Linked DNA regions of Homo sapiens. The protein of the gene in region 1 purifies or fractionates together with the protein of each later gene. This does not show direct contact. Each region holds a gene or a part of one and is shown in the gene's direction. Other genes may lie near its edges.

Region 1 (3,655 bases):
ATTGTACTGGTATCAAAACAGATATATAGACCAATGGAACAGAGCAGATGGCTCAGAAATAATGCCACACATATACAGCCATCTGATATTTGACAAACCTGACAAAAATAAGCAATGGGGAAAGGATTCCTTATTTAATAAATGGTGCTGGGAAAACTGGCTAGCCATATGCAGAAAACTGAAACTGGATCCCTTCCTTACACTTCATACAAAAATTAACTCAAGATGGATTAAAGACTTAAACATAAGACCTAAAACCATAAAAACCCTAGAAGAAAACTTAGGCAATACCATTCAGGACATAGGCATGGGCAAAGGCTTCATGACTAAAACACCAAAAGCAATGGCAACAAAAGCCAAAATTGATTAATGGGATCTAATTAAACTAAAGAGCTTCTGCACAGCAAAAGAAACTATCATCAGAGTAAACAGGCAACCTACAGAATGGGAGAAAATTTTTGCAATCTGTCAATCTAACTAAGGGCTTATACCCAGAATCTACAAGGAACAGATACAAATTTACAAGAAAAAAACAACCCCATCAAAAAGTGGGTGAAGGATATGAACAGACACTTCTCAAAAAGAAGACATTTATGCAGCCAAAAAACATATGAAAAAAAGCTCATAATCACTCGTCATTAGAGAAATGCAAATCAAAACCACAATGAGATACCATCTCTCACCAGTTAGAATGGCGATCATTAAAAAGTCAGGAAACAACAGATACTGGAGAGGATGTGAAGAAATAGGAACGCTTTCATATTGTTGGTGGGAGTAAATTAGTTCAATCATTGTGGAAGACAGTGTGGCAATTCCTCAAGGATCTAGAACTACAAATACCATTTGATACAGCAATCCCATTACTGGGTATATACCCAAAGGGTTACAAATCATTCTACTATAAAGATGCATTCACACATATGTTTATTACAGCACTGTTCACAATAGTAAAGACTTGGAACCAACCAAAATGCCCATCAGTGATAGACTGGATAAAGAAAATATGACACATATACACCATGGAATACTATGCAGCCATAAAAAAGGATAAGTTCATGTCCTTTGCAGAGACATGGATGAAGCTGGAAACCATCATTCTCAGCAAACTAACACAGGAACAGAAAACCAAACACTGCATGTTCTCACTCATAAGTGGGAGTTGAACAGTGAAAACACATGGACACAGGGAGGGGAACATCATATACCAGGGCCTGTCAGGGGCTGGGGGACTAGGAGAGGGATAGCATTAGGAGAAATACCTAATGTAGATGATGGGTTGATGGGTGCAGCAAACCACTATGGCATGTGTATACCTATGTAACAAACCTGCACATTCTGCACATGTATCTCAGAACTTAAAGTATAATTAAAAAAAAAAAAAAACGGCAGTGATCCTGAGCTCTGGGGAGACTGCAATGAGCAGAGCCCTCCTGCCAACTTGTATTGGACTTGTAGCAGGATTGCAAAATTGACTTCTGTTTCTTTAAGCCACTGAGATTTAGCATTATTTCTTACTGTAGTATCAGCTAATAGCTACCTTTTTCTCTATTCAATAGCACTTGTGCCCTCCACCTACAAATTTCAACTCTGATTCTACAGCAGTGATTCTGGGGCCTAGCTGCACATCCAAATAGATCTTGGAGCTTTAAAAACATCCTGATGCCCAGACTTCACGCCAGACCAATCACATCAGAATTTACTTGATTGGAAGCTGGCATTTGGTATGTTTTTTAAAACCCCAGGCAATTTTGTTGTGCTGCTGCCAGGGCTGAGGACCACTGTCATAATAATGGGGACCTGAGAAAGCTCTGTCAGTTGCCAGAAGTCGTTAAGCTTCCTATTATGAGGACTTGCCATAGGACACAAATAAGCCCAAAGATTACAGTACATTTTCTGCTTGTAACAGCTATTCCTACTTGTACGGACTTTGAAGTGATTCAGTTTCCTCTACGGATGAGAGACTGGCTCAAGAATATCCTCATGCAGCTTTATGAAGCCAACTCTGAACACGCTGGTTATCTAAATGAGAAGCAGAGAAATAAAGTAAGTTATCCACAGGTTAGCTTCTTCAATGTCTGTCTACAGGGCATGAGGAAGAAAGACGTGGTGGGGGGGCTACCTACCTCTGCATACTGGCAAAAGCCCACTATGCTTCCCCATGCCCGGTTAGCCCATGTGGCTTAACAGAATAATAGATGTCACCATTCACGCCACAAGGTTTCAGACACCACCAAACCGCCCCATTCTTCCCAATGGTCAGTGGCCTGAATTAGGGCTCTTCAATTCCTACCTAGAGCAAGCTCTGGTTGAGCAAAGTTAATATAAATTTAGCATTGATCTAGTCAGTCCAAACATCTTATTTAAATCTAAGCATTTGTTTTGTTCTCATAGGCCAGACATAGATGTATGATATAAAGTAAATCCATTACTCAAAATATCAGTAATATATTAAGATTAAAAAGCACAGAACATTGATTCCAAAAGCTTCCAGAGAAAATTCATTCACCAGATAGTTATTGAGTGTATCCTGGGTGCCAGAAATTGACCTAAATACTGGAGATACAGCAACGAAAAGAAAATCTCTGCCTTCATGAGTTTACATTCTGGGTGAAGAGACAGACTCTAAACAAATAAGTATATATGTGTGTGTGTATGTAATGTTTGTATATGCATATATTTGTACATACATATATATGCATATATGCAATTATATATAGTAAAATGAGCATTTATGTAAATATAACCAAATCAGCAAATATATGTATAAGTATGTCAGTTGGGATTAAACATGGTGTGAAGACAAATAAAACAAGAAGGAGGGTGTGCATTAACTGTGTCAGATGCTGTTTATAGGTTATGAGTTGAAGACTGAGAATTGGCCAGGGATTTAGCATGTCAAAGTCATAGCTGACCTTGATAGGAACTGTTCCTGGGGTGGGAGCATGTTTCAGGAGGGAAGCTCCAGTGGACAGAGTTCAACAGAGACTAGGAGGAATGGATGCAGCAAGTATAGACAATCCTTTCAAGGAGTTTTGCTATGAAGAGATAAAGAGAAATGGGGTGGCAGCTGGAGTGGAAAGTGAGTACAAGAGTCCCACCTAGCAGTGGGAGATGGTAGAGGATGTTTGCACGCTTCTGGAAATAACCCAGTCAAGAAGGAAATGTTAGTGGGGAGCAGAGAATGCGCACAACTGCCAGAGGGCGTTCTTCGATACATGTCCCACCCAGAGGAGAGGGATTGGACTTAGGTTAGGAGCACAGGAAGGTCGCAGGGAGCAAAGTTGTGGTTCTGGGAGCAGGTGGAGGTCCTGTTTGCTTCCAATTACTCAGTGAAATAAGAGGCAACATCACAAGCTGAGAGTTTCACAGGCACTGCTCAAGAATAATTTCTAGCCCCCGTCTTGAATACCTTGTCACAGAGAGCCTTGAGGGTATTAGCTATGAAACAGGGAAATTTCAATGGGGCTGGCCAAGCAATAACACACCAGGGTGAAAGCAAGACTGAGTGGGCACTGGATGGATGACCTAGAAGACTAAGAGTGGACTCTGTCATCGGGGGAAGGAGCAGCACTTTTCACTAACTAATCACCTTAGTCAATTCAGCCCTTTTCATTAAAACCTCATAGTTTAAAAAAAAAAAAAAAAAGCAGCGAAC
Region 2 (3,655 bases), on another chromosome or scaffold:
GGTCTTCAATTTCAACTCGTCAAGTACATCACACTCCAGTTTGAAAAGTCCAAGCCACATGGAAAAATACCCGCAAAAAGAGAAAACCAAAGAAGATCTGGATTCACGAAGCAACCTACACTTGCCAGAAACTAAATTTTCTGAATTGTCAAAACTGAAGAATGATGATATGGAAAAGGCTAATCATATTGAAAGTGTTATTAAATCAAACTTGCCAAACTGTGCAAACAGTGACACCGACTTCATGGGTCTTTTCAAATCAAGCCGGTATGACCCAAGCATTTCTTTTTCTGGAATGTCATTATCAGACACAATGGTAAGTAGCAATGTGTTATTATTTATTTGGGGTATTTTTAAAGCAAGGGAAGAGAAGGATGATGAGCAACTCATGTTATTCTTTTAGAAATGGTTAAGCTTATGTGCTATAGTTTTTATTCATTCATCACATATTTGAAAACCTGCAATGTACAAGGGACCGTTAGAGTGCAAGAAAAAAATGTACTAAGAGTCTTCACTGAAGGCATCTGTAGTCTTGCAGGGAGATAAAGCTACAAATGCTCTAAGGCACATGATCTTTTTTTTTTTTTTTTTTTTTTTTTGAGACAGAGTCTCGCTCTGTCGCCCAGGCTGGAGTGCAGTGGTGCAATCTCAGCTCACTGCAACCTCCACCTCCTGGGTTCAAGCGATTCTTCTGCCTCGGCTTCCCTAGTAGCAGGGAATGCAGGCGCGTGCCACCACGCCTGGCTAATTTTTGTATTTTTAGTAAAGACTGAAAATACAAATACGGGGGTTTTACCATATTGGCTGGGCTGGTCTCGAACTCCTGACCTCGTGATCCATCTGCCTCGGCCTCCCAGAGTGTTGCGATTACAGGTGTGAGCCATCCTGACTGGCTGGCAATAAATCTTTTAAGGCACATGTGAATTTATATGTTGTATTATGAAAGGTATAGGTAAGCTTTTAGAGTTCAGAGACAGATGAGTTGCTTTTTCTTACCTATTCTATGTAAAAATGCTCAGTGCTATACTTAGAATTTTGAAGATTTGTGAAGGAGCTTCCTCTATTTGGGAAGTCCCCAGCCAGGGAAACTTTTTCTTAATCCTTCTCTCTGTGAGATTCACTCTTTGTTCCCATAAGTAGCAATAGGTGTTTATCCTATGCAATTGAGACAGTATTTTGTCTTTATTGGGAATTAGTTTTCATTAGGGAAATATTTTTTTTACCCTGCAAAGCTGTGGGGAATAAAGAATTTTGGTTTTCATTGGATCTTTTCTTAAATATTAGAGAGAAGACAGCAAAACATGATTTTGGGGAATAATTTTGATTTCTGCATCTTCTTTTATCTCACTTCAGAAGATGTTTACTTTACTCGGTTTTTGATGTGAATTGCGCCTTTTTGTTACCAAGCTTATTTAAGGTGAGAAAGGACTATGAGAGAGGAAGGTGGAATATATGTTTAGTGATCAGCTCTGCCAGGCTAGAAACCTGAGTAGGGTTTGTATTCTGGTGGTCCATCCTGTGAACCCGGCTGTCTGGCAAGTGTGGACCTCAATCCAACACAGTTTATCTAGGCAGAAAATACCTTGCACCTTTCCTCGTCTGTACAGGGTACTGCAGCATGGTTCAATGTATTGTATTGGCTTTTACTACAATCCTGTCAGAGAATGTGATGTTGCAAGCTCTTTCAAAATATATGGTTGGGTTTCCAGCAGAGGTGCAGATCCCTTTTTCATGTGATTTCATAAACTTTCATAAAGTTTGGGTTTCAGATGTTTGGTGTTAGGACCCTTTATGTTTAAAAATGATTGAGAACCCCAACGAGCTTTTGTTTGTATGGGTTCTGCCTATCAGAATTTATTATATTATAAATAATTGCTGAGAAAATTGTAAAACACCAGAAAGTAGAAGTGCACACTGCACCAGTGCTCAGAGCAACGATGTCATCACACATCATGGAGCCTTGTACTCCGCTGGACATTTGAGACAGAGATGAAAAAGGCAGGTGACCTCTTCTTATTATGAAAATAGTTTTGACCCCATGGACTACCTGAAAGTATCTTGGAGACCCCCGCAGTGGCCTCTGAACCACATTTTGAGAACCACTGCTATAAACAAATAAGACTGAATCAGCCTATGGTACTCAGAAATCATAAAATTCTAACTATTTCTATTAATAGTTATATAATAGAAATATTAACTATTTCTCTCAAGCACAAAATTTCCACTGGTCCACTTCCCATTCATTACTACTTTGTTCTTTTTAATTGTTCTTAGATCGCTTTCCTTATTTAACTACAGTCTGACAAAGTTGATAACAGAATATACAGTTTCCCTATGAAAATCAAGTCAAATGACATAAAAAGGAAAAATAAAATCTTTATACTTTTTCTAGGCCTTTTTATGATTAAAAAATATGGTCTTTCTTTAGGTCCTGGGCTTTTATTGATTGTATATTCAATCATGAAGGTTTTACCTGAATTTTGTTTTAAATTTTAGGCTTTTTCTTCAGTTTATCTACTTCTAATGTGTATATATACATAAATAGGTATATACCATCTGGCTTCTGATAAGGCTCTAGGGGGGCCCTTATGGCCTTTTTTTTTTTTTTTAGAGTCAGAATCTCGCTCTGTCACCCAAGCTGGAGTGCAGTGGCATGATCTCAGCTCACTGCAACCTCTCTGCCTTCCAGGTTCAAGCGATTTTCATGTCTCAGCCTCCCAAGTAGCTGGGATTATAAGTGAGTGCCACCACGCCCAGCTAATTTATGTATTTTTAGTAGAGACGGGGTTTTGCCATGTTGGCCAGGCTGGTCTCGAACTCCTGACCTCAGGTGATCTGCCCACCTCAGCCTCCCAAAGTGCTGGGATTACAGGTGTGAGGCACTGCGCCCCAGCCTTTTGTGGTCTTCTGGGCATATCACACTCTGGTGTGATGCAAGAGCAGTCAGAGCAAAGGCAGTTCCTAAAATAGGCATCCTGGTCAGCACTGAAAGTAGTTCACGTTTTGTAATATTTTTACATGTATAATTACTATTTTATTATCTTATGCATTTCTGGTTTTACTGGTCTTGTCAGATGGTCTTGAAAATGATTAGTTTTGGAGCCATATTGAAATGTATTTTGTCTATCAAAAAAGCGGGATTAGGCCGGGCACGGTGGCTCTCACCTGTAATCCCAGCACTTTGGGAGGCTGAGGCAGGCGGATCACGAGGTCAAGAGATCGAGACCATCCTAGCCAACATGGTGAAACCCCATCTCTACTAAAAGAAAAATACAAAAATTAGCTGGGCCTGGTGGCACATGCCTGTAGTCCCAGCTACTCGGGAGGCTGAGGCAGGAGAATCACTTGAACCCAGGCGGAGGTTGCAGTGAGCCAAGATGATGCCACTGCACTCCAGCCTGGTGACAGAGCCAGACTCCATCTCAAAAGAAAAAAAAGGGGGATTAAATATACTATGTGCAATGTACATTATGAAATATACCATATATACCATAAACACTTCTATTTAGACTAGTGGTTGTTATATGATTGTAGATTTACTATGAGAAAACAATATTTATATGGATTCAGATAGGGTATGTATATGAACACAAAATTGATTCAGCTCTTTCTAGGTAAGTGATTAATATATTCTAATTTATCTTTATTTGAGATG
Region 3 (3,655 bases), on another chromosome or scaffold:
TTGTTGTTGTTTTGTTTTTTGTTGGTTTTGGTTTTTTTTGAGATGGATTCTCGCTCCATGCCCAGGCTGGAGTGCAGTGGTGTGATCTTGGCTCACTGCAACCTCCGCCTCCTGGGTTCAAGCAATCCTCCTGCCTAAGCCTCCTGAGTAGCTGGGATTATAGGTGTGCACCACCACCGCCCGGCTAATTTTTGTATTTTTAGTAGAGACAGGGTTTCACTATGTTAGCCAGGCTGGTCTTGAACTCCTAACTTCAGGTGATCCACCGCCTTCGGTCTCCCAAAGTGCTGTGATTACAGACATGAGCCACCGTGCCCAGCCTGTAGATGTATTTTTGTAGGAAAGATACCTAGCAGTGGAATTGCTGGGCTTGGGGTAAACATTACTTTGTTGGATGCTGCCAAATTGTGCTCCAAAAAGGTATGAGCGCCAGTCTTAGAAAGGAAGACCCTTTCCCCCAGCCGTGGCCCCCACTGTGTATTACCTGTCCTCTCCTTTGCCAGTGGAGGTGAAAGGAGGGAGTTGTTGGAGGACTTGGAATTTTTGGTGAGGCTGCAGACCTCTTCCTGTGTCCCTCATACTCATGCTCCCTGGGCCCACAGGGAGTCACAGCCACCCCGTCCCTCCCCTTCCAGGTCCTGAGGATGTGTGTGAGGCCTATAGGCATGTGCTGGGCCAAGATAAGGTGTCCTATGAGGTACCCCGCTTGCATGGGGATGAGGAGCGCTTCTTCGTGGAAGGCCTGTCCTTCCCTGATGCCGGCTTCACAGGACTCATCTCCTTCCATGTCACTCTGCTGGACGACTCCAACGAGGTAGGGACAGAGGGGGTTCAAGAGGAGCTCCACTCGGGACCAGCCTGGGCAACATGGTGAAACCCCATCTCTACAAAAAAAAAAAAAATAGCGAGGTATAGTGGTGTACACCTATAGTCCCAGTTACTTGGGAGGCTGAGGTGGGAGGATCACCTGAACCCCAGGGAGGTTGAGGTTGCAGTGAGCCATGATCACCCCACTGCACTCCACAGCCTGGGCAACAAAGTAAGACCCTGTCTCCAAAAAATAATAATAATAAAGGGCAGTGGGGAGGACTCCATTCCTGGTAAGTCTACCAGGCACCACTGGTGTGAAAGACCCCAGACTTCTTGACCACCCCTCTGGTTCATTTCCATCTTGCAGAGAAGCAAGGGGTTTTCTTATGGACCACAGTGGTGGAATCAGAGTCCCCCCAGGCCTCTGGACTCCAAGTCCAGTGCTCTTTCTCCCCTGGTCTGCCCCTGCAGGATTTCTCGGCATCCCCTATCTTCACTGACACTGTGGTGTTCCGAGTGGCACCCTGGATCATGACGCCCAGCACTCTGCCACCCCTAGAGGTGTATGTGTGCCGGTGAGTCTTGGGGCAGTGGGTGGTCCCTCTGGCCCCCAGGCCCCGGCTCCATCCTGAGCCCCTCTTCCCTGGGCTTGTCCGTAGTGTGAGGAACAACACGTGTTTTGTGGATGCGGTGGCAGAGCTGGCCAGGAAGGCCGGCTGCAAGCTGACCATCTGCCCACAGGCCGAGAACCGCAACGACCGCTGGATCCAGGTAACCACAGCCACTGGGCAGGGCCCAGCAAGGACGCCATCCTGGAGAGAGAGGCCTTCATTTGGGGGCCACCGAGAAACATCCAGGAGGACCTGGGTGCTCCCCAGGGAACTTGCTGCCGTTTCTAATGTGAGACCTAGAGGCTTCTCTCCAGAACCTTCTGGAGACCCACGCTGATCCTGGATTCAACACCCATTCACCCACCGGATCTGGGCTAGGCACTAGGCTAGGCCCACAGGGGTGGCACAGGTGTGAGACACACACTCCCTGCCCTCAACAGCTGAGACCAGTGGTTCTCATCAAGAGGCGATGTGTCCCCAGGAGACGTTTTGCAGTATCTGCAGACAGTGCGCAGGACAAGCCCCCACAATAACATATCATCCAGTCCCACGCCTCAGTAGTGTCGAGGCTGAGAAACCTTGATGTGCAGAATGATTGCTACAAAAATACCTACTCCTACTATCTAGTGTGTAGCTGGGGCAACATGGTGAAACCCTGTCTCTGCAAAAAAGTTAAAAAATTAGCAGGGCATGGTGGCGTGTGTCTGTAGTCCCAGCTACTCTGGAGGCTGAGGTCAGAGGATCACCTGAGTTTAGGAAGGTCAAGGCTGCAGAGAGCTGTGATTGTGCCACTGCACTCCAGCCTCAGCAACAACAACAAAAAAAAAAAAAAAAAAAGAGAGAGAGAGAGAGAGAAAAAGAAATATCTAGGGTGCAGAGGCTATACCAGCAAAGCACCAGTAGGGTTTGGGGGATGCAGCATCACCTCTGCCCAGGGAATCAGTGAAGACCTCCAGGAGGGAGAGCATCTGAGCTGGACCAGATTTGGCAGATGAGGGCACATGACTTCTGCCATTTATGCCCCATTTTCTGCAGGCCAGGCATAGCATCATTTCATCTTCTTGATAACCCCCTGTAAGTCCCCCATAATTCAGGAGCTCTTAGGGGAGCATGACTGGGCCACAGAGCTGGTAAAGGCAGTGCTAGGACTCAGGCTGCCAAGCACCAGGCTGTACAGGTTGGTGGTCCTGGCAGAGACCGAGCATGCGCAAAGGCCCGGGGGTGGGAGGCAGGAGAGAGAACCTTGTGTGTTCTCCTCTGTCAGGGCACTGGTTCTGAGAAAGGCAAGGGTTGAGGTCGGAGACCTTGAATTCCAAGTTAAGGAGCTTTCCTCTTGGCCGGAGGTCAGTCCAGTGAGAGGGTTTGGGGCAGGACTCTGGGGCACGATGGGCTGGGTTTAGAGCCTGGCTGTGCCACCAACTAACTAGCTGTGAGCTTTGGGACAAATATTTTTTAATTTTTATTTATTTTTTTAAATTAATATATTTTGAATTTATTTTTCTTTTTGGAGACAGTGTCTCTCTGTCACCCTGGTTGGAGTGCCATGGCATGATCACAGCTCACTGGCAGCCTGGAACTCCTGGGTTCAAGTGATCCTTCTGCCTCAGTCTCCCGAGTAGCTGAGACCACAGGTGCAGCCACCAGGCTCAGCTAATTTTTTGTAGAGATGGGGTCTTGCCATGTTGCCCAGGGTTGTCTCAAACTCCTGGCCTCAAGCAATCCTCCCGCCTCACCCTCCCAAAGTGCTGGGATTATAGGTGTGAGCCACCGTGCCCGGACTGGATAAATAATTAGACCTCTTAGTTCCTCATTTTCCTCATCTGTCACATGGGATAATTATGGTGCCCACGCCCAGGCATGTCATGAGGATGAATGGAGTTAATGTTTATAAAGAGTTTAGGGCAGGACCTGGATGTGAAGTTCATTCACACTGGGCCATCTTTTCCTCCAGAACCAGAGGGGTCAGGACTGACCTGGGCACATTTATGGATCCAACTCAGGCCACTGTGAGTGCTTCTCTGTGTCCACCTGCCTTGGCCCAGTACTCACAGGGACACCCCCAAGGTCATGTCCATGTTCTCGTTCACCTCCGGCCTCTGTCTTGCTGTGTGACCTTAGACAAGTGCACCCCCTCCTTGAGCCTCCAGCCCCTCCTCCAGTCAGCAGGCACCCTGACCTCGGTCCTGTCCGCCTCCAAGCACAAAACATGCTTGGGCCAGGGGACTTGGTGAGCA

Evidence for each region.
Region 2: the proteins of SPARCL1 (region 1) and CRYBG1 purify together in Homo sapiens (affinity purification with mass spectrometry; one large-scale study listed by BioGRID and IntAct). This does not show direct contact.
Region 3: the proteins of SPARCL1 (region 1) and PADI3 purify together in Homo sapiens (affinity purification with mass spectrometry; one large-scale study listed by BioGRID and IntAct). This does not show direct contact.

What each region holds. Positions count from the first base shown.
Region 1 is NC_000004.12:87,480,812-87,484,466, reverse strand, and holds part of SPARCL1 (SPARC-like protein 1 isoform 1 precursor), read left to right. Parts: intron 1-1,906; coding exon 1,907-2,043; intron 2,044-3,655.
Region 2 is NC_000006.12:106,521,138-106,524,792, forward strand, and holds part of CRYBG1 (beta/gamma crystallin domain-containing protein 1), read left to right. Parts: coding exon 1-316; intron 317-3,655. UniProt on the Homo sapiens protein: May function as suppressor of malignant melanoma. It may exert its effects through interactions with the cytoskeleton.
Region 3 is NC_000001.11:17,269,598-17,273,252, forward strand, and holds part of PADI3 (protein-arginine deiminase type-3), read left to right. Parts: intron 1-635; coding exon 636-814; intron 815-1,281; coding exon 1,282-1,385; intron 1,386-1,469; coding exon 1,470-1,581; intron 1,582-3,655. UniProt on the Homo sapiens protein: Catalyzes the deimination of arginine residues of proteins.